6 linked regions of the Homo sapiens genome follow. The protein of the gene in region 1 purifies or fractionates together with the protein of each later gene. This does not show direct contact. Each region holds a gene or a part of one and is shown in the gene's direction. Other genes may lie near its edges. The genes, in order: KRABD4, SLC43A3, CCNQ, GARRE1, SLC35F6 and ASXL2.

Region 1 (4,020 bases):
TTTTCCTAGGACTTGTACAGGAGGCTTAGACAGGGTAACTTCCCAGGGGATGGCTGTACTGAGTTTGCAAATTTGGGCTGAGACTCATTCAAACTACCTGGGGAATGCAAGTTAACCTGCAGAGGAGAAAGCGAAAAAGAAAAAGGAGAAAGACCCATGTTCAAATGGAAATTAAATACATATCTGATGGATTCCATGATCAGCTTTAACACTTTCATCTATAAACAGTGTCTGGCACCAGTTGGCTCCAGCACAGAAGGGATTGCTTTGTACCTGGTGGAGACCCTGCCATGCCTGACCCAAGGAAGCCTGCTTGGTGACTAGGCAGGCACAGAAGGATGGAGAACACACTTCGTCTGTTTCCCCCAGGCCCAGACAGGAAACAGAAAACTTTCCTCAAGGCCATTACAGGCCTTTTTAGGGGACCATGTTGCCACTGGCTGGCAATCTCACAGAAAACACCTCTTTGCTATTTACAGTGCGTTTTCAAAAAAGTAAAATCCAGATTCTCCCAGGGTGTCTAGGATCTCAGGAATTGGAGCCCCTCTATTGCGTAGAGAAAAATCAGAATGAGGGTTTCTTTCCTCATTTCAAGAGATCGCTGGCTCTGCAGCCCAGCTCAAAAGCCCATCCTCCAGGCCACTTCCCCGGCTGAGCCAGACCCCTTGCTCCCATGACTCTCTGAGAGCCAGGCCCAGGGTCGGGTTCCCTGAGACCAGCCTGGACCCTAGATGGCCACGCCTCCGAGCGCTATTGGCGCCGGAGGCGCGACTCTTTTTCCTATTCCCAGGAGGGTAAAAAAGCGGGAACAATGGCTTTCAGGACGGAGGGACACAAACACCCAATGCCGCAGCGACTGGGAGGGTCGCGATGCAGGAGGACGAAATGGGAGAAGGGGGACAAGGGGGACTTCGGCCTCCCTGCGGGCGGGAGCTAGGCCGCTGGAAAGTCCGCTCGCCTCTCGCCGGCAAGGGATGACGCCCTGGGCCTTTTGTACCACTCGCCACGGAAAATGGTCACACGCTTTTGTCCTCAAGCCGAACACTATCAGAAACACGGGGTCCCTGGAAGCCGCCATCTTGGCCATTGGCGGTGGCGCACCCACCCCCGTGCTACTGCGCGTGCGCGGCGCTGCGACACACTCCGACCCCATCCCGCGTTCCCAGGGGGCGGTGGGAAGCGGAAGTGCTCCGCTGACCCGGGAGGGCGGTCCCTAGTTCACACTGGCTGTTGTCAGCGGCCTCTGAGGTTTCAGGCTCTTGGCGGTGAAGTAAGAGGGACGCGGAGGTGGTGATGGTTTTGATGGGGGCGGGGGTTGACGGGGTCGTGGGGTCATGGGGCCATGGGTGAACGCCTTTGTGGGTGACAGGGTGGCTCTACAGCCCAGCTCAAAAGCCCATCCTCCAGGCCACTTCCCCGCCTGAGACAGGCCCCTTGCTCTCAGGACCCTCTGAGCCAGGACCAGGGTCCGGTTCCCTGAGACCCGCAGGCCTGTGGGCGTGAGTGCTGGGGACGAGGTTCAGGGCCAGCGAGTGACTGATTGAGTCACTCCGCGCCTGTTTCCTGAGCGCCTAAAAATGCCAGGCAACCTTGCAAATGTTTCACATTAATCTTCACAGGAGCCCTGTGAGGTGTTACGATGATTATTTTCGTGTTATAGAGAGAAAATGGCTCAGTGTGGCTTGACAACCTGTCCAAAGTCACGTAGGTAGCAAACCCGAGGAATCTTTTTTTTCTTTTCCTGTGCTTCGTTTATCATGTTTATTGTTTCCTGTGTGTCTCCCCCGCTGGACTAGAAACTCTGCGGGAGCTGGGACTTTGAGATTTTGTTCCCTGATGTATTTCCAGCACGGAGAACGGGCTCATGGAAGGAAGGCACCCATTTCTTCAGTGAATAAAAGTGGCACAGCAGTCAGTCAGTTGATTCCAAAGCCCGGACTCAGGAAGGCAGGGTTTCGCTCACTGAGGATAATTGAGCTGTGAATCAATGTTAACTCTTAAAGCTAGAATGAGGCATTGTCCCTCTTCTGCTGGGTAAAACCTTTGGGTTTTACTCAACTTCACTGCATGGAAGGGAGCATAGGTGTTGCTAATTGAATCTCCTGTGGTCATTGTGTTTCCAGGGTCAGAGTGCAGACCTGAGACCACTGCTCACCGACTTCAGACTCCAGTTTATCTGTGCCCCAGCTTCCTCACTTAGTCTCAGAAGACTTAGGCTGAGGCCTCAGAAGGAGGTGAGTTCCCTGGGTCACAGGCAGAGATCTGGTGCTATAGTGATGGCCTCAACTGGGGCGTGTTTGTCTCTGAATCCCTTGGTCCTGCGGCCTTGGACACAAGAGAGGTACGCTGAGCTGAGGCGAGTTGGAGGAGAAGCCTCAGCCCAGAGCCCAGACCCAGATCCTCAGGGCAGAGAAAGGAGGCTCACAGGATAGCAGGTCCTAGAAGAGCTGGACCCATAGTGGCCTTTGTCCCTCACTTCAGCTGAGACAAAGCAAAGCTGGCTCAACTTCCAGATGCCATCGAGGACCGTGTGACAGTGCAGTTTGATTCCTGCTGGAGGAGGGACAGGTGAAAGTCACAGGTGGATGGAGGCATGGATGTCCCCCCATGGGGCAGGTGCCCTGCTGTAGTGCCTGTAAAGGCGCTATGAGGCTGGGAAGGATCACAGCCAGCCACAGAGGATTGGCCTCTCCTAGCACACCTATTTGTGCACCCCTGTGTTCCCGTCTCTTGCCATTGGCTATTTCTGAATTTGAGTCAGCCCCACACCATCAATCAGGCACCTGCTTCCAGGGGAAATGCTGAGTGTCCCTTCATCCTGACCAAAGTGCAGAAAATATATTTTTAGTTTATAGAATTTCCAAGTAGTCTCTAGGTACGCTGTCATCCATCTCTGCTGCCTTATTTCAATGCTTAATGAAAGTGGGCCAGGGGACATGACCTGCTAAGCCACACCAAGCTGAACCCTGTTGTCCTGATACTGTCACAATGATTGTTGCAGTATGCAATGGTTACTCTGCACAGAAGCTCCTTGCTGGAACTTTATTTGAAAAACTACCAAAGAAGGAGGAGCCTGGTAATCAAAATGCAAATTGTGAGAAAGGAGAAAATGATGGGGTGGGAACAGGGTAGGTGGCCAGTTAAAGAGGCAGATGCAGGGGAGCAGGCACGGTGGTTTTCAGCCCCTCACAGAACTGACAGTGCTGGGCTGTTACCCACCCAGCCCCACACCTCTCCTCCACTGTGGCCCTCTGAGCCCCTGTTGGGCTCCTTCCTCCAAACCACATCAAGAGATCCTACTTATACACACTTGCAGAGGGTCTTTTCACCTCTAGGGCTCGGTTTGATAAGTGGTGATTTTTAATAATTTTTAATTTTTGTTTTACTAGTGATATTCTTTGTCAAAAATTGAGAAAATGCAAATAAAAGAAGAAAATTGAAATCACCACTCAAAAGTAACCAATATCAGCATTTTAATAAATCCTCTGAGACATCATATATGTGCATATTGATTATCAAAAATGAGATCACACTGCGCTTGCTTTCTTGGAACCTGCTTTTAAACACATTAGGAACTAAAAACAAATTCCATAGCATTTTGAAAGGCTGTTCAGTATACCTGCTTTTGCATGTGTCATATTTTTTAACTGTGTCCTCTTTGCTGGATATTTAGTTGCTTCCAATTTTTTTGTTTATTTGTTTTTTGTTTAGACAGGGATTCCCTCTGTCGCCCAGGCTGGAGTGCAGTGGTGCCATCTTGGCTCACTGCAACCTCCACTTCCTGGGCTCAAGTGATCCTCCCACCCAGCCTTCAGAGTAGCAGGGACTACAGGTATGTGCTACCATGCCTGGCTAATTTTTGTAGAGATGGGGTTTCGCCATGTTGCCCAGGCTGGTCTCGAACTCCTGGGCTCCAGTGATCTGCCCACATCAGCCTCCCAAAGTGCTGGGATTATAAGCATGAGCCACTGCACCCGGCCGCTTCCACATATTAATATTTTAATGGTAGAAATGACTACA
Region 2 (3,500 bases), on another chromosome or scaffold:
CTACACTTGTGGGCTGGCTGAGCAGAATCATGTTTTTTCTCCCAGGTTTCTCCCTCCTTGACAATATTCTGCTTTTCCTGTTATGTGTTTCAGATTTTTCTACACCACCGCCACACTCATCATAGCCTTCACCTCTGCAGGTGAGTGCTGTCAGGTGGGTGGGAGGGATGCAAGCTCAGAGGCACCTGGTGGCTGGGGCAGGTGTGAGCAGAGGGCTATAGGCAAGATATACAGACCACATGGTTATTCAGAGATCTGCAGCTTGAAAGAATCCTGGAAGGATCTTGAGCTATTGCTGGTCTGTGAAAACAGTTTATTGAGAAAATGTGAAAAGCAAGGATGATGGAGAGGGATTACTTCAGAGAGTAGAATTTATTCAAAACTTTACATCTGGCCAGGTGCAGTGGCTCACTCCTGTAATCCCAGCACTTTGGGAGGCTGAGGCGGGTGGATCATCTGAGGTCAGGAGTTCAAGACCAGCCTGGCCAACATGGTGAAATCCCTTCTCTACTAAAAAAAATACAAAAATTAGCTGGATGGTGGTGCGCGCCTGTAATCCCAGCCACTCAGGAGGCTGAGGCAGGAGAATTGCCTGAACCCAGGAGGCAGAGGTTGCAGTGAGCCAAGATCACACCATTGCACTCCAGCCTGGGTGACAAAGTGAGACTCTACCAAAAAACAAACAAAAAACCCTAAAAAACAAAACAACAACAAAAAACCTTTACATCCTTCTCCTATGTGTTAAAATGTTCTCTTTCTCTTTTTAATGAAATGATTATATGAATGACCATTTTGCAAATATCCTTACTTAGCAGGGTAAAAGTTGACAACCCTATTGTACTCAAAATCTTTGTTTTAAAATTTCACCAGTCTGTTAAGTCTGGAACTCCAATCTGGTTTATTTTCCACCACCCTTCCACCCATTACACAGAGGAGAAACTGAAGCCACAGCAGGACCCCTTGCAAAGACATGTCCATGGCCACAGAGAAAGCAAGTGGGAGGTGGGCCTGATGTGCAGGCCTCCTGATCCCTCACTCTTCTTTCTGTCATTGCCTTGGTTATGGTGGCCACGAGATGCCTCCCAATATTCCTTCCTAGTGTTAGACCCGTGGCTCAATTTTTGGTTTAGGAAAGAAAGTACATTACTCTTGTGTGTGTAAGCTATGCTAAAGCTGACAGCATCATGAGATTGTCTGCACTCATGCTGGGCAAACACAGAGGCTGAGTGTCTTTGTTCACACAGATCTCATGAGATGGCCCAGCACCTCAAACCAATTATTTCAAACCACTCTCCTTATCAAACCAGCATCATCTACTCTAAAAGCCTGTAAATGATTTTTAAGCAACTGAATGTGGAGGTGGTGGCTGGGTAATGTTTGACTCGTGCCTGCAAATCGTCTGAGCAACAATCCTCCTCTTCCTCCATAATATAGGGCTTTTCAGTTTTGAAAAAAGCATTGAGCCCATAAGGACTCTATTGTGAAAGGAGTCTCCAACCTTTAGTAGTAGGAGAGATGTACATTTTATAAAGACAGAAATTGAATGGTAAACTGTGTGAATACTCTAAAATTAGCTCTTGGCAGTGCTTCTTAAGGTATAGCACGGTAGTTAAGAGGATGTTAGGGGCACACGCATACTACGTGAACTACACTAACAAACATCAAATCACCTGGTAGAACAGCTATTCCCTTTTTATTTCTCTTTCAGTCCTTCTGATTTCATGAAAGAATGTCTTCATGTGGGGCCAGTGTGATTTTAACACTGATGGGAAGAGCAGGTCTTAGGCTTTGAACATTCTAAGGTCAAATGCATCCAGCTACAATTGAATAACATTGTTTTCCTTTCATTGTATTTATTTTGACAGTTACTTTCTATTCATGACAAGTAATGCCAGTGTTTTCATCTACAGTAGTGATATAAAGTGTCCTTTAAAAATAGATACTTTTTGGATAAAAGTGAGTCAACTTAAAACATTTTAGCAAATAATAGGACAGGCATAGGTTGTGGCCAGAATAATGGTGGGCAGAAGTCTGGTTTGGGGAGGAAGAATTTGTCAAGGGTTCCCCTAGCCCAGCTCTTGAGCTTTTTTGCTGTGGTCTCACACTTACCAGACCTGTTATAACCATTTGTTTGCATGTCAGTCTATTTAAGGGCAAGGACTATCTGATTCATCTTGCATTTCCAGTGCCAAGCACAATGCCTGGCACCAAAGAAGTGCTCAGAGTTTAGTGAACAAAGAAAAGACCATGGTCCTTTTCTCACTCAGTTCTCATAGCACCTGAGACAGGAAGAGCAGGAACTGTTGTTCCCATTAAACAGATGATTGAAGCTCAAGGCCAATACCATGAATTAGGGAATGGGCTAGAGGGTTGAGCCAGGGACCTGAGTCCAGGGTCTTCTTTTCCAGGAGTGTCAAGGATGAAAGGGAGAGGCAGCTTGTGGTTTACTGAGGGAAGAGAGAGGTGGCTTCACTTAGAGCTCTGCCTCTGTCTGTAGACTTCCTGGCCTGCCACAGACTGAGGACCAACTTTGGTTGGGAAGAAGGTGGCTCAGAAGACTTCCACAGAGATATCTGGGGAAGCCTTGGCCGGTATCCTAAAAACCCTTGAAGGACGCTGGAACGCTGGCTAGAATTGGGGCCTGGATACCAGGATTGTTGGGAATTTGGAGCAGGTGGGAGCAGAGTTTGGGGCTCCATGTTTGGGTTGCACTATGACACCACCCTACCTCTGACTTTGATGGTCCAGGCTCAGCCGTGCTGCTCTTCCTGGCCATGCCAATGCTCACCATTGGGGGAATCCTGTTTCTCATCACCAACCTGCAGGTGGGAGCCTTCCCTAATCCCAGGCACTCGGCAGGGTGGCGGGAAGGTGGAGGGAAGGAGAGACCCTTTTCTATAATTGGCTGCCTCAGATGGGGTTGGCCCAAGCTGAGGTGGGAGCTCTAGCGGTGGAGGGTGAGTTTGGGTATAAGGAGGGTCTGCCACATGCTGGGTGCTCAGGAAGTATCTGTTTCATGAATAAATAAGTGATCCAGGCTAGTCCTATCATCCCCAGATTGGGAACCTATTTGGCCAACACCGTTCGACCATCATCACTCTGTACAATGGAGCATTTGACTCTTCCTCGGCAGTCTTCCTTATTATTAAGGTAAATATAGCAACAGCCTACATTCACTGGGCACTTGTATATGCCAGACACTTGTCTTGTGAACCTGCATTATTTGTCTCCATCAACTCGGTGAGGTAGGTACTGTGTTACCCCCATTTTACAGATGAAGCATTTGAGTCTCTGAGGTTAAAAAGCTTGTTGAAGGTTCTGCAGCTAGTAGCCATGATACTGGAACTTGAACCCAGGCTTGTCGGTTCTAGAGCCTGAGCTTGTAACCGCTAAGCCCCTTCTTCAGACTTGCCCAAGCTTTTGTGGCAGTGGTCATAATGTGCTTGGGCCAGTGTTGGGTAGAGGCTGGGGGACCTTTAGAGTGGGGCGTTTGCTGCTGT
Region 3 (3,500 bases), about 110 Mb from region 1:
TTTACCATAAGTTCTTTTGCGAGACCAACCTGGACGCCTATGACCCTTACCTGATTGCCATGTCTTCAATTTACTTGGCCGGCAAAGTGGAAGAGCAGCACCTGCGGACTCGTGACATCATCAATGTGTCCAACAGGTAATGGCATTTGGCTGGGCTCCTGATCTCCACCCGGTGGGGGGGACGGGCAGGGAAGGCTCCTATGGGGCCCTGCCCACCAGGTGCCAGCAATGGAGCTTGGAAGGAAGTACCTGGATGGCCTTGAACCAGGCAGGGCCAGAAACAGTAGCAGCAAACGTGAGAAGGAGCCTGATGTCAGAGGCCAGTGGGGTCTGTGAGAGAAACGCTGGGCCAGATTATGGGGAGCCTCGAAAGCTGGATGGAGGGCAGAGGCGGGGCTTCAGCAGAGGGAGCTTGGAGAGGCATGTCAAAGAAGATTCTGTGGAAGTCTTAGACAGGGATGGCTGCAGGCAGAAGAGCTTGCCTGCAGCGGGAGGGTGCAGACCCAGCCAGGTGGTAGGTCCCAGTTGCTTAGGAGCCTCGCCCTGCTGTGGGTGTGGCGTGGGCATGGCACAGCCGGCCCAAGCAGGTGTGTTCCTGCTGGGGCAGAATGCAGGGTCTTCGCCAAGGCGAGGGAAAGACGGTCTGGGAAATACAAAACTGAGAAATGTTCACTTTTTGGAGTATATCATTCCCATGAGAGGCTTAAACATGTTCCTTGGATGGCTGGACGTGGTGGCTCACGCCTGTGATCCCAGCACTTTGGGAGGCCGAGGCGGGTGGATCGCTTGAGCCCAGGAGTTCAAGACCAGCCTGGTCAACATGGTGAAACCTCGTCTCTACCAAAAATACAAAAATTAGCCGGGCGTGGTGGCGCATGCCTGTGGTTCCAGCTGCTCGGGTAGCTGAGGCGGGAGGATCGCTTGAGCCCAGGAGGTCAAGGCTGCAGTGAGCTGTGGCTGCACCACTGTACTCCAGCCTGAAAGGCAGAGCAAGACCCTGTCTCAAAAAGTAAAAAGTAAAAATAAGTTAAAAAAATACGTTCCTTGGGCCCAGAGTGAGAGCCCCGGGCATTGCCACCTCAGGTGATGAAGACTCCCTAATGCCGGGCTGAGTATAACAGGAAGCACAACCGACTTGGCATGCTCAAGCTTCCGGTTCCTCTGGAGCCATCGCCAACAGCCAGTCTTTGCACTTGACATTTTGCTGAATGATAGCGGACAGCCCATCTGGCTAAAACTAGGAGCTGGCTTCTTTCCTCTGTTGGTTACTGTTTTCATTCTCTACACTAGATGTGGAGATGAAGAATTTTTGTATAAAAACCCAAATAAAATGACCCTCCATGAATCTGCAGATGGACGATGTAGTTTGCATCTGGACATTGTGTGACTTAAGCAATTTGAGCCATCCAGTGCTCAGGAGACTGCCCTGGCTGCTGAAGCATTGCCATTTCTCTGCGCAGGTACTTTAACCCAAGCGGTGAGCCCCTGGAATTGGACTCCCGCTTCTGGGAACTCCGGGACAGCATCGTGCAGTGTGAGCTTCTCATGCTGAGAGTTCTGCGCTTCCAGGTCTCCTTCCAGCATCCACACAAGGTACATACTGGGGAACTGGTGCCTGTTTGGAGAGGCTCAAGCCATGGTCTCTGTTCTTTATCCCAAAAGTGCATCCCATCTCATACTCGAGAGCACAGCACAGAAGGAGAGCAGGGCTGCGGCTGGGAACTGGGTCTCCTGGCTCTGTGTTTGTGGCTGGGTTGGCCGCCCGGCCTCTCCCGTCCCACCCCTGTGGGTTTTCTCAGCCAATTCTCATTTCAGCTTCTGCCTTTCTGCCTGCTCACCTGTGGGCGGGGTCCGTGCTGCCCGCTGAAGCTGTGGCAGCTCCTGTGGTCCATATAGATGGTGTGCACGCTGGGCCTCGGGGAAGCAGGCTGGTTTTGTGACCGGCCAGAGTCCCCGTCCCCAGGGGATGCTGTGATGCCTCGGAGCACGCCTCCAGCTCAGCTGTGCTTAGGAAGCCATGGGGAAAGCCAAATCGCTTGAGTCAAGCAGCATGCTTTAACTTCTAGGAATGTGTGAGTCTCAACAGAAGAACCATTTCAAACAGCAGTAAAAGGGAAAAGTGGAACGCTTAGGCGACTGGCACACGATGCTCTGGGCACCGCAGCTCCATGCACGGGCAGCTCAGAAGGCTGGCCGGAGACAGAGATGGAGGAGTTGTGGTTTGGGGCTCTGGGCTAGGAGTTTCATTCTTTTTCATCGGAACTCTTCCTGAGATCATTGTAGATTCCCATGCAGTTGTGACATGTACCCTTAGCCCAGTCTCCCCCAGGGGTAACACAGCCAGGATGCCAAAACCAACACAGTCCACTGGCATCCTCACTTCCACTTGTATTCCTGTGTGTATATTTTTCTGTTCCATTTTATCACGACTCCGTTCACGGACCTACCACCACAGCCAAGGTGAGAGACGGTTCCACCCGCATGGGCCCTTCGTGTTGCCTTTATAATCTTGCCTCCAGCCTTCCACACTCCCACCTCAGTACCTGGAAAGCCCTGGTCTGGGATTTCTGCGCAGTAGTGTCTTAGTGGGCAGAATGCTTGCTGAGCATCCTGGGGGAAGGTGGGAGATGCCCTGGTGGCTGCAGGGTGGAGTTGTCAAGGCGACAGGGCTTAGGAAAGAGCAGCACTCAGACCTCAAGGGGTGTGTGATCTGTGCCCAGATGGGGAACTGATAGCTTGGTGTGGCTGGGAGCCTGCCAGCCCCTTCCCCTCCTTCCAGTCAGGGCTGGGGTGGAAAGTAACCTATGTATCCCTCCTGCATGGTGTGCTGGGGTCACACGCATGTGTGTTCCAGACTGTCCAGAGAGCTCGCAGCATCTGTCTTATTGTGTGAGGTTCTGGCAAAATGTCAGTGTTCTGAGAGCAGGAGCTGGCAGCTGGGCTGGGAGGTCATTTGGATGTTGTGGCCGAGGACAGCATGTGCCCTTGGCAGCAGGCCAGATGCATGGGGAGCAGCACCTTCTGTTCTGCCCATGAAGAGGGTGCTTTCCGGAGCACCAGGCCCCGAGGAATTTCATGGTGGCCAGAGCGGGCCCTGTGGTGGAGAGGGACTGTGGTGGGGGTGGCCCTCGTAGGTTTCCCTAGAGCTGGGTCTGGAGGGTGAGAGTGGGCAGGTGCATACGGTGAGCTGGTTTCAGGCAGAGGGCTCAGCAAGTGCGAAGGCCCTAGATGGGGTTTGCTGGAAGGCAGGGTGGGATCGGCAGGAGATGGGGCCAGCAGAAGGCCTTGGGGCTTCTTCCTGAGGGACATGGAAGCTGCTGGAGGGTTGGAGCAGGTGCTGATATGATTATGTCAGCATGAGGAGAGCAGCTGGTGGGCCTAAAGGCTGACACACGTGTCTTTGCAGTACCTGCTCCACTACCTGGTTTCCCTCCAGAACTGGCTGAACCGCCACAGCTGGCAGCGGACCCCTGTTGCCGTCACCGCCTGGGCCCTGCTGC
Region 4 (4,158 bases), on another chromosome or scaffold:
CCACCACGCCTGGCTGATTTTGTATTTTTAGTAGAGACGGGGTTTCATCATGTTGGTCAGGCTGGTCTCGAACTCCTGACCTCAGGTGATCCACGCGCCTTGGCCTCCCAAAGTGCTGGGATTACAGGCGTAAGCCACGGCGCCCGGCCTCCTTCAACGCTGAGTAATATTCTATTGTTATGTTTATACCACATTTTGTGAACCCATTCACCCGTGGATGGACATTGGGTTGCTTCCACCTTCTGACTAATATGAACATGGGTGTACACATTTATATCCACTCTTGCCTCCCCTCCGTAGTCCTTCCTTCTCCACACTGCATCTAGAGTAACCCCTTTACACTCTCAAGTATGGACAAATCACCTCTTGCTTAAAACTCATTAGTTTTGCAACACTGTCAAGTAAGACCTAACTTCTCACCACTCTGATTTATTATTGGAACACAAAACTGGGCCATGCTCCGTGGCTCAAGCACTTTGGGAGGCCGAGGTGGGCGGAACACCTGAGGTCAGGAGTTTGAGACCAGCGTGGCCAACATGGGGAAATCCCGTCTCTACTAATAACACAAAAATTAGCCGGGCGTGGTGGCGCACGCTTGTAATCGCAGCTATCCGGGAGGCTGAGGCAGGAGAATCACTTGAACCCGGGAGGTGGAGGTTGCAGCGAGCCAAGATCACGTCACTGCACTCCAGCCTGGGCGATAGAGCAAGACTCCGTCTCAAACAAACAAAACCCACAGAACTGGAAGACCCTTGCTGCTGCTTCTGCGTAATGTGTTCTCCTCCCTTCTCGTTTTTTTTTTTTTTTTTCTCCCTTCTACCCCTTAGGACCTCAGCTCCTGCTCTTTCCCTGGGGGAATTCCGGATCACTCTCCTTTACTAGGTCAGGGTACTCTCTCCCTCCCTCTTACTCTTTCCCCTCCTACCACTTGTCACCATTGGTACTATATTATCACCCGGATATGTGACAATGGTATTGTGTATTTACCACTAAGGAATAAACTTATGAGGGAGAGAGCACTACCCGTTCCTGCAGTGCCCGTCGGGGCCTGGCATCTAGGAAACACTCCATACGCCAGTAATCGATTTCAGTCAATTTCAGTAATAAATCCAGGAGGACGCAGCCCGACCCCTCCCGCCCGGGGGCCAAGCCATGGTGGGGGATCTGGGTGGACCTCCGGCTCTGGCCGCCAGTCCTCAACCTCCGCCCCGGCCGTCCCGCTTGGGGGCCCAGGGTCCCAGGAGAGGAGGCTCCGGGGCGCCCCCTCCCCTCTAATGCGAGAGGAGAGTCCGCTCTAGGCGCGGGATCCGCAACCTCCCCGCGTCCGCCCGAGGCGGGGGCGGGGCCGGACCGGAGACGTAACTTCCGGTGTACACAGCCGGTCCAAGGCGGTGCGCTGGGGGCCGGGGCGCGTCGCAGGTGAGGAGCGGGCGCGGCGGGCGCAGGCGGGGGCTGGCGGGCGGGGTCGGGCGGTGGGCGGTGGGCAGCGGGGCCGCGGGCCGCAGCCAGGGCAGACGGCGAGACGGGCCCGCGGGGCGCCGCTCCGCTCGGGGCCGCAGGGCGCGGGGCCGTGGGCTCCCGCCCCTTGCCCGCCCGCTGTGGAGGACGCCGGGCTTTGCGGGCGCTGGCCGGCCGACGGAAGCCCGGAGGGGCCTCCTGGCGCGAACCCGGGACCTGGGGGCGCGTCGGAGACTCGGCGGCCGCGGCACCGCAGGGGCGGGTCGGCGCCCGTCAGGCGGGGAAAGGGGACGCTCCCTCGGTTCGCCGGGGCCCGGGAGGTCGCGCTGGCGCCAGGACCCGCTCCCGGAAGCCCGCGGAGGGAGGGCGGCCTGCTGGCGGCAGGGGTCCGCTGGGGCTAGCCGGGGAGGCGGCCCTCACGCCATCCCGGGGCTGCCGGGCGGGCTGCGCGCACCTTCCCGGCGGCGCCAGGCTGCCGAGGAACGCGCTTTTCCGGCCCTGCGGAGCCAGCTGGCGCATTGGGCCCGAGGGGAGGGTCCGCGGGGACCGGGAGGGCCGGGGCTGAGCGTGGAGGACCCGAGCCCGAGGGACGAGCGCAGAGTCAGGGGTGTGTCTTTCTGCGCCGCGCGGTGCGAGGAAAGAAGCGTGCCTGGTTGGCATGATAAGAATTTTGTTTAGACTTTTTAGAAATTTTCCAGAGACTCAGCTTTGGGGGCCTCCAGTTTGAAAATACCTTGTTCTGGTCCCTCATCCCCATTATAAAAGCAGTTAATTCTCCTTTCCTGGCAAAACACTCAAGACGACACAAAAAGTCTTAAGGTAGAAAATGACAGTCATCTGCCAGTCTACCATTCAGTGACAACCACTGCTAACATTTTGGTGATAATCAATAAATACAGATAGGTATTGTTATTTTTATGGACTTTACAGTATGTGATTTAACCACCGATGAGCATTGAGATAGTTTCCAATTTGTCACAAGATAAACAATTCTGCCGGAAGGATTTGTTTGATATGGTCTTTTTTTTTTTTTTTTAATAAGAGACTGTTGCCCAGGCTGGTCTCAAAACTTCTGGCCTCAAGCGACCCTCACGCCTTCGCCTTCCAAAGTGTTGGGATTACAAGTGTGAGATATTACACCTGGTCTGATTGTTATCTTAGAATAAATTTACAAATGGGGTCAAAGGTAACTTTATTTGTTTTTTTTTGAGACAGTCTCCCTCTGTCACCCAGGCTGGAGTGCAGTGGCGGGATCTAGATTAACTGCAACCTTAGCCTCCCGGGTTCGAGCGATTCTCCTGCTTTAGTCTCCCGAGTAGCTGAGATTACAGGCACCCACCACGCCCGGCTAATTTTTGTATTTTTAGTAGAGACAGGGTTTCGCCCAGTTGACCAGGTTGGTCTCGAACTCCTGACCTCAGGTGATCCGCCTGGCTCGGCGTTCCAAAGTGCTGGGATTATAGGCGTGAGCCACCGTGTCCGGCCGTAACGTTCAATTTTTAAGAATACATAGTATTTGTTTTCCTTTGACATATTTGGACAATTTTTCTGTCTCTTTGTCATAAAAAAAAATTCCAGCCTGGCGCGATGGCTCATGCCTGTAATCCCAGCACTTTGGGAGGCCGAGGCGGGCGGATCACTTGAGGTCAGGAGTTCTAGACCAGCCTGGCCAACGTGGTGAAACCCGGATTCAACTAAAAAAATACAAAAAAACACATTAGCCAAGCATGGTGGCGCGCTCCTGTAGTCCCAGCTACTTGGGAGGCTGAGGCAGGAGAATCGCTTGAGCCCAGGAGGCGAAGGTTGCAGTGAGCCGAGGTCGTGCCACTGCGCTCCAGCCTGGGCAACAGAGTGAGACTCCATCTCAAAAAAAAAAAAAAAGAAATTCATGTTTGCGTCTCATCGTTTCATGGTTTTATTTTTTTGCCTTTAGTCTACCTAAAATTCATTCTTGGTTTAAAATATGAAATATTTTGTAAATGGCTAGTCAGTTCCAGATTTATTGAATAATATGTAAGCTTTATCATTTTATCATATTTTAGACTAAAAGTTCTAAGTGTATGTTTGTAAGGGCTACTTACAAAGTTCATATTTACATTTTGTGTGTGCTTAGATGTTTTCAAGTGTCTTTAAAAATCACAGTATTTTCTTTTCACAGTATCTTCACAATATTTTGTTTTAAAAAGAAATCATTTTCCAATACAAGTACAGGGAATATTTCATGTTTGAGATTTTTTTTTTCTTTTTAAAGCAAAAAGTTTAGTTTATTGCCGTTTCATTTGCTTTCTTGCTGACAAGATAACAAACTCCATATGAAGAGTTCAGGTTTGTTGTGGCAACTTTTCAGTGTGGCATTTGAGATTCTAATCTTCCTCTATTTTTGCACACAAATACGTAGGTTGGCATTGGAGACCAAGATAGAAAAGTTCTCAGATTCCCTTGGCAAGCCTAGATTTTTCAATCTAAAATTATCTCCAGATGTTTGGAAGACCATGTTTTAAGCATCCTTTTTTTTTTTTTTAAGCAAATTGCACATGATTCTGTGAAAATTTTAGTAAATGTTTGTTCTGTTGAAAACCTATAGCCTAATACATCAGGATCCATGTGTCAAGTGGGTCTTCCAAGTCTATAGGAAATAATTGTTTCTGAAAGCTAGCAGGCTGGGATATCACATGGGTTGGGTGTCCACTCTCTTTTTTT
Region 5 (3,500 bases), on another chromosome or scaffold:
GTACTGGGTCACAATATAAAATGTATTTCTTACTCTTGATCCAGTCAAAAAAACCCTGAGTAAAAGTGGAGAAGGGACAGCTAGAACCCATCTAATAGGCCACAAGCTCCTGATGAGAGACTGAGGGACGTGAAAGGAGGGAGCTGGCATGAGGACCACTGGGAGGGAATGACCCGAGATCAGAGGAGGCTAAGCCGGTGGGCTGTGCTGGGGGTCTGGGGGAAGGTGGAGAGTGTAACTGTTTCCTCTACTCCCCAGGCCTCTTTGGCTTTGTGATCCTCTCCCTGCTGCTGGTGCCCATGTACTACATCCCCGCCGGCTCCTTCAGCGGAAACCCTCGTGGGACACTGGAGGATGCATTGGACGCCTTCTGCCAGGTGGGCCAGCAGCCGCTCATTGCCGTGGCACTGCTGGGCAACATCAGCAGCATTGCCTTCTTCAACTTCGCAGGCATCAGCGTCACCAAGGAACTGAGCGCCACCACCCGCATGGTGTTGGACAGCTTGCGCACCGTTGTCATCTGGGCACTGAGCCTGGCACTGGGCTGGGAGGCCTTCCATGCACTGCAGATCCTTGGCTTCCTCATACTCCTTATAGGCACTGCCCTCTACAATGGGCTACACCGTCCGCTGCTGGGCCGCCTGTCCAGGGGCCGGCCCCTGGCAGAGGAGAGCGAGCAGGAGAGACTGCTGGGTGGCACCCGCACTCCCATCAATGATGCCAGCTGAGGTTCCCTGGAGGCTTCTACTGCCACCCGGGTGCTCCTTCTCCCTGAGACTGAGGCCACACAGGCTGGTGGGCCCCGAATGCCCTATCCCCAAGGCCTCACCCTGTCCCCTCCCTGCAGAACCCCCAGGGCAGCTGCTGCCACAGAAGATAACAACACCCAAGTCCTCTTTTTCTCACTACCACCTGCAGGGTGGTGTTACCCAGCCCCCACAAGCCTGAGTGCAGTGGCAGACCTCAGCTCTCTGGACCCCTCCTACAGCACTAGAGCTAAATCATGAAGTTGAATTGTAGGAATTTACCACCGTAGTGTATCTGAATCATAAACTAGATTATCATAGTTATCTAGTTTATGAGTCATAAGCTAGATTTGATTCTTCAAAGAAGAAAAGTCAGTGAGCAAATTTAAACCAGAACTAAGCATTATATTTTCTTTTTTTTTTTTTGAGACAGAGTCTCGCTCTGTCGCCCAGGCTGGAGTGCAGTGGCACGATCTCGGCGGCTCACTACAACCTCTGCCTCCCAGGTTCAAATGATTCTCCTGCCTCAGCCTCCCGAGTAGCTGGGATTACAGGTGCATAACACACCTGGGTAACTTTTATAGAGATGGGGTTTCACCATGTTGGCCAGGCTGGTCTCAAACTCCTGACCTCAGGTGATCTGCCTGCCTCGGCCTCCCAAAGTGCTGGGATTACAGGCGTGAGACACCACACCCAGCCATAACTAAGCATTATGTTTTCTAAAACTTCTAAGATCCTCCCTAAACCCGTCTGGAGACATGGGTTTTAGCCCAGACTCTGCCTCAAACTCATTGTAGCTCCCAGCACATTACCCAGTTGCTCTGGGCCTTGGTGTTATGCTCTGGGAAGTAGATGTTGATGCTGTGGCCTTAGTGCCTTCTGGCCCCAGCATTCCATGGGCCTGTGATCTTGACCAACCTGAGAAAACAGTAACAGCCCATCCACTGGAAATACCCCTCTGCCCACAGCACCACCCTTCTGTGCTGTTTTTTTTGTTGTTTGTTTGTTTCTTCTTTTTGAGACAGAGTCTTGCTCTGTTGCCACGCTGGAGTGCAGTGGTGTGATCTCGGCTCACTGCAACCTCCCGCTCCCAGGTTCAAGCAAGTCCCCTGAGTAGCTGGGACTACAGGCGTGTGCCACCACATCCGGCTAATTTTTTGCATTCTTTAATAGAGACGGGGTTTTGCCATGTTGGCCAGGATGGTCTCAATCTCCTGACCTCATGATCCACCTGCCTCAGCCTCCCAAAGTGCTGGGGTTACAGGCATGAGCCACCACGCCCAGCCTTTTTTTTTTTTTTTTTTTTTTCTTGAGAGACAGGGTCTTGCTCTGTCACCCAGGCACAGCTTACTGCAGCCTTGAACTCCTGGGATCAATCAGTCCTCCTGCCTCAGCCTCCCGAGTAGCTAAGACTAACAGGTATGTACCACCATGCCTGGTTTATTGTTTTATTTTTTTGGCAGAGATGGGTCTCACTGTGTTGCCCAGGCTGATCTCAAACTCCTGGCCTCAAGCGATCCTCCCATCTCAGCCTCCCAAAGTGCTGGGATTACAGACCTGAGCCACCACACCTGGGCAACAGAGTGAAACCTGTCCCTGTTTTCCTGCTCTTACTCTCACCTCTGAGGCCTCCTCTGCCTGGAAGAGATTACAGGGAAATTCCAGGCAGCCCTTGTCAATTGTTTTTATGAATTCTTTACCTGTTCCTTTTAAAGACAAGGAAACTGAGGCCCAAAGTTCTAAGTTGTTTGGCAAATGGAGTCTCCTACCCTCAGCTCCTGCAAGGACCTGGGGGACCCCCAGGTCCAGCAGCCACATGATTCTGCAGCAGACAGGGACCTAGAGCACATCTGGATCTCAGCCCCACCCCTGGCAACCTGCCTGCCTAGAGAACTCCCAAGATGACAGACTAAGTAGGATTCTGCCATTTAGAATAATTCTGGTATCCTGGGCGTTGCGTTAAGTTGCTTAACTTTCATTCTGTCTTACGATAGTCTTCAGAGGTGGGAACAGATGAAGAAACCATGCCCCAGAGAAGGTTAAGTGACTTCCTCTTTATGGAGCCAGTGTTCCAACCTAGGTTTGCCTGATACCAGACCTGTGGCCCCACCTCCCATGCAGGTCTCTGTGGGGTCTTTGGGATGGATCTCCTAGGGCTGGGCTGGAAGCCTCATGTACTGTTGTCTTCTAGGTAACCACCCTGAAGAGAAGGGGTGGCATCAGGAACCGCAGGGAACCAAGCAGCCTTTGGTCCAGTGCTGCTCCTTGGAACAGTTGAGTGTGGCCTCAAACCATTCTCCTGGGTAGCTCAGTCATAAAACACCGAATGCCTGCCTCAAAATAGCCTCTGAGGGAAGGGAGCTGTTGACAAGTGAAGCCCTCAGGTTGTGTGGGATTCCAGCAGGTTATTACAGCTTGTGGGGGGAGGGAGGGTCCATTCCACCAGCTTTGAATCCCAGGGTCCCCTCAGCTTCACTGGGCCACAGTGTCTGTCCCAGGAAGAAGCAAATGGACAGTGAGGATGATGGAGAGACTACAGCTGCCTTGTCTAAAACCTGGGATCTTAAAAGTGTTATTTTGGCTTTTATTTTTTAAAAAAAGAAAAGGAAAATTGGCAATTGTATTAATCCATTCTCGAATTGCTGTAAAGAAATACCTGAGACTGGGTAATTTAATTTATAAAGAAAAGAGGTTTAATTGGCTCACAGTTCTGCAGGCTATACAGGAAGCATAGTAGCTTCTGCTTCTGGGGAG
Region 6 (3,500 bases), on another chromosome or scaffold:
CATCCTATTAAACAGAAAGTAAAGCCAAATAGCCTGGAGTTGTTTGTCCTACTTGTTCCATAACCCCTATGCTCAAGATACTGAAGCTATCTGTGGTATTTCATGTAACATTTCTAAGAATAAGAGCTGGCAAATGGGAAACTTGGGGTGGAGAGAGCATACTTATTGGGCTGTGAAGGCATACGGATGTACATGTTTTAGAGCTTATCTCAGATTTAAATAGCCAAAGGAAGACCTCATTGCCTTCCAGGTGAAGGTGCAAAGTCATACATATTAATGACCTGACAGTTAACATTCTGTTGTTTATTATTGCCTTTCTCCACCTTAGAGAGCCATAAATAACTCTCTGGTGAAGTGATTTGCTATAATGGGGGTGAGGAGTGGGGAGACTTCTCTGGTCATTACACTGCTATTTATTTCTAGAACTCACTATCAGTGAGCAGTGCCAGAGTGTTTTCTCTTTGACCTAGAGGTTTCACATCATAGCAAGGAGGGAAAAGTCTCCCCATCTCCTTACAACTGTGTGCTAAGTAAGTAACTTGGCCAAGGGTAGTTTTCAGCTCAATTTATAGAATAGTCCAAAGAGACTTTGAGAAACATGGTGATAGGCAGGGGCCTTTCCTACCATGTTTCAATACCTACAAACCTATTGAAAGAGAACAGTAGGTAAAACATTTCCTAAAGTTGAAGCAATAGCTTCGTAGATTCTTGGTTACTTTATTTTTTTTAATGCTTTACATTTGATACAACTATTGAAGATCAATTTTAAAAATAGCTTTCCAGTAATATATTTTAAGTAATATATATTTTAATATCTGTAAAAAGTGACAGTGGAAGACTTTGAATTTCTCATATATGGTATGTTTGATGTAGGACCTCACTGTTAAGGCACAAATTATTTCAAAGGAAGTTACTCTAAAGACACTCAGATTATTTCAGAAAAATGCAATAAGGGGAATAGTTTTGGGGTTTATTTTTTATTTTAAAAGAAAATTGACTTATTTACCACAAGCTATTTTTTTCCCTTCTGGCTGTAAGGTTTGTACAGACTGGTTTGGTAAATGCTAAACTTTTGTGTCTTTTGCCTTTTTAAAGGAATTGTTAACATTGGAATTGAGGGTATGTACAGAGAAGTTGGTGTCAACACCATTTAAAAAGTCATATTTTTTCACAAATATAGAAAATCATTTTACATAAGAATTTTAAGTATTTGCAATAAATATATGTATATAGATTGTATGTATTCCTATATTCTTATTTTTCATTTTATTATTAAGTAAAAGATCATTAAAAGTGAAAATAAAAACCTTGGAGTTTTTTGGTGAATCTTGAGGTTTAACATACATCTGAGAGTGGCGTGGGTAAGAGTCCTCAGTTACTGCCTTATACTCCTATGGGATGGTTCCCACAGATTGTATGGAAGAGAGTAAAATGAGGAACTTGGTGATAAATCAGGGTAGTGTATTTCTTTTGGAATTTAAGTAAAACTGATTAAATTTTCCTTATCTGTCTGTCTCCATGTTTTCTCCCTTAATCTGTTTTGTCTCCTAACCCCCTAACATTACTGGAAAAGTGAAGAAATGCGGTGCAGCCTCTTTATTAATGTGCCCATTGTTTGCTCCTAAATCAAAGAATGGTAAGGAAATATCTCGGGGGAAAAAATAGGTTTTCCTTTCTCCACAGTGGTTGACATTTACTGCCACCACTTTCCAGGCCTTAGGGGAGTGTGAAGAAATAGTTTCTTGAAGATGATAGAAATTTTTTTTTTTCCGTTTCCCAGTTCTCTCAGAAGTGAGTTTCATAGCCAGTCATGTCCTTCCTGCCCGTCTAATCTGGAGAGGTCAAAGAGCAAGGAAAATAATGTGAAGAGAAACACCTGTGCCTTGATTAGGTTCTATTTCAGCATTTGACACTTGAATTTTGAACTCCTCTGGGTCAGGAAGGGTAGCTATGGAAATGAGGTCTGAGCCAGTTGGTAGGAGAGGTTGTCTATGTTCCCATACCGAGATTGCTGTCTAATCCACGAGAACTCATTTTGTGGCTGCAAAGTAAATACTTGATTTTAGGATATGATAGGAGCAAAATGGTGCCTACATCGTCTTTATAAAGAAAAGTATATAGCCCATTTTTTAACAAATGAATAATATATCGAATCATTGATGACCTAAAAGAAAAATTGTTAAGGTCAGATTTTCGAGAGTGTATCTTGATGACCCATAAAACTGACTTTTTATTGTAGTTCACTAGTTCCCATAATTGCCCAGCTGTGGTTACTTTCACTGAAAAGAAAAAATATATTTTGGAAGTTAATGTAAGGATACATTGGCTTTTTTTTTTTTTCTTTACATTGGCTTTTTAAAAGACAGTTTTTATTTTTCAGATACTGGAATGTCAAGTATCTGGGTTGTCCCAAGACGTTGGAGATAATTCAGCCTTCCAAGAGAACAGCAGTCTAGATCTTAGCTGAAAATGTGCTGTTTCTAAAGGAAGCTTCTTAAGTCTCAGGGGACATTAGCATCTTCATAATTTCCATATATAATAAGAATGAAGGTAAAATATTTAAATGTGTATAAACTAATCCATAATGACCATTTACAAAGATTGACTCCCCATTTCTGGTACATATTTATCATTATTTAGATGGGTCTCCTATCTTGTGGGAAGATAAATTTATATTCAGGTGATGACATGGGTGCCTGCAAGTAGAGTTGGTCTGCAGCTGAGGGAGAAGGCAACATACCAGAAGACAAGGCAGCTTCAACCTGGATCCCCAGCTACCCTTTATTTACTTCACTGAGTCAGAAACCCGTGTTCATTGCTTCTGAGACTACTTGACCTCAGCTGGTCTTTAGAAGTCTGGTAACTTTTTATGTACAAATCATGTTATTTACTAATTCAAGTATTTATAGAGCACCTACTGTGCACTAAGCACTAAAGTGCTGGTTATGCAAAGGTAAGCAAAAATAGTCATGTAAGTTGCAGAAAGGTTTTCCTAAAGTAGTGACTATACAGCATGTTTTTAGTTCTAGGCTCAAGGAGTAATACTACCTTTTTCCCAAGATAGGTTGAAAATTTAAATGAGTTATGAAATGGAAGTGTTTGAGACACTGGACACAGTAGTGGCAAATACATGAAGAAAGAAGGTCCCTAGATGAAAAAAGTGTGGAAATGAGGAGCCATATTAATAAAATGCACCTTTTTTGAGAACTATTGTTGGAATAGCTAAAGTTGTCTATAGAAATTTCAAGAAATCTCTTAACATCTAAATTAGAAGCAGGCCAACAGCAATCTCTGTCAGTAGTTAATTTAGGTCAGTAAGTTAGTGTTTTGTTAAACTAACCCTTTCAAACACAGTTGGGTAAATAATGCAGCTTTCCTGTCACTGTTCAAACCTAAAAGAAGCTAAAGGGAATTTTTCTTAAAACATGATTTTCATCTTATAGATGATAAGTAACTGTATCTCTTCATTTGGAATTGTTGCATCCCAGTTTTTCTCCATA

Evidence for each region.
Region 2: the proteins of KRABD4 (region 1) and SLC43A3 purify together in Homo sapiens (affinity purification with mass spectrometry; one large-scale study listed by BioGRID and IntAct). This does not show direct contact.
Region 3: the proteins of KRABD4 (region 1) and CCNQ purify together in Homo sapiens (affinity purification with mass spectrometry; one large-scale study listed by BioGRID and IntAct). This does not show direct contact.
Region 4: the proteins of KRABD4 (region 1) and GARRE1 purify together in Homo sapiens (affinity purification with mass spectrometry; one large-scale study listed by BioGRID and IntAct). This does not show direct contact.
Region 5: the proteins of KRABD4 (region 1) and SLC35F6 purify together in Homo sapiens (affinity purification with mass spectrometry; one large-scale study listed by BioGRID and IntAct). This does not show direct contact.
Region 6: the proteins of KRABD4 (region 1) and ASXL2 purify together in Homo sapiens (affinity purification with mass spectrometry, with the first as the bait; one large-scale study listed by BioGRID). This does not show direct contact.

The regions. Positions count from the first base shown.
Region 1 is NC_000023.11:46,446,077-46,450,096, forward strand, and holds the start of KRABD4 (KRAB domain-containing protein 4), read left to right. Parts: upstream 1-1,220; 5' UTR 1,221-1,270; intron 1,271-2,123; 5' UTR 2,124-2,234; intron 2,235-4,020.
Region 2 is NC_000011.10:57,420,622-57,424,121, reverse strand, and holds part of SLC43A3 (equilibrative nucleobase transporter 1), read left to right. Parts: intron 1-93; coding exon 94-140; intron 141-2,748; coding exon 2,749-2,825; intron 2,826-3,057; coding exon 3,058-3,150; intron 3,151-3,500. UniProt on the Homo sapiens protein: Sodium-independent purine-selective nucleobase transporter which mediates the equilibrative transport of extracellular purine nucleobases such as adenine, guanine and hypoxanthine.
Region 3 is NC_000023.11:153,592,640-153,596,139, reverse strand, and holds part of CCNQ (cyclin-Q), read left to right. Parts: coding exon 1-136; intron 137-1,460; coding exon 1,461-1,593; intron 1,594-3,406; coding exon 3,407-3,500. UniProt on the Homo sapiens protein: Activating cyclin for the cyclin-associated kinase CDK10.
Region 4 is NC_000019.10:34,253,196-34,257,353, forward strand, and holds the start of GARRE1 (granule associated Rac and RHOG effector protein 1), read left to right. Parts: upstream 1-1,358; 5' UTR 1,359-1,419; intron 1,420-4,158. UniProt on the Homo sapiens protein: Acts as an effector of RAC1.
Region 5 is NC_000002.12:26,777,784-26,781,283, forward strand, and holds the end of SLC35F6 (solute carrier family 35 member F6 precursor), read left to right. Parts: intron 1-258; coding exon 259-728; 3' UTR 729-3,448; downstream 3,449-3,500. UniProt on the Homo sapiens protein: Involved in the maintenance of mitochondrial membrane potential in pancreatic ductal adenocarcinoma (PDAC) cells. Promotes pancreatic ductal adenocarcinoma (PDAC) cell growth. May play a role as a nucleotide-sugar transporter.
Region 6 is NC_000002.12:25,735,488-25,738,987, reverse strand, and holds part of ASXL2 (putative Polycomb group protein ASXL2), read left to right. Parts: 3' UTR 1-3,500.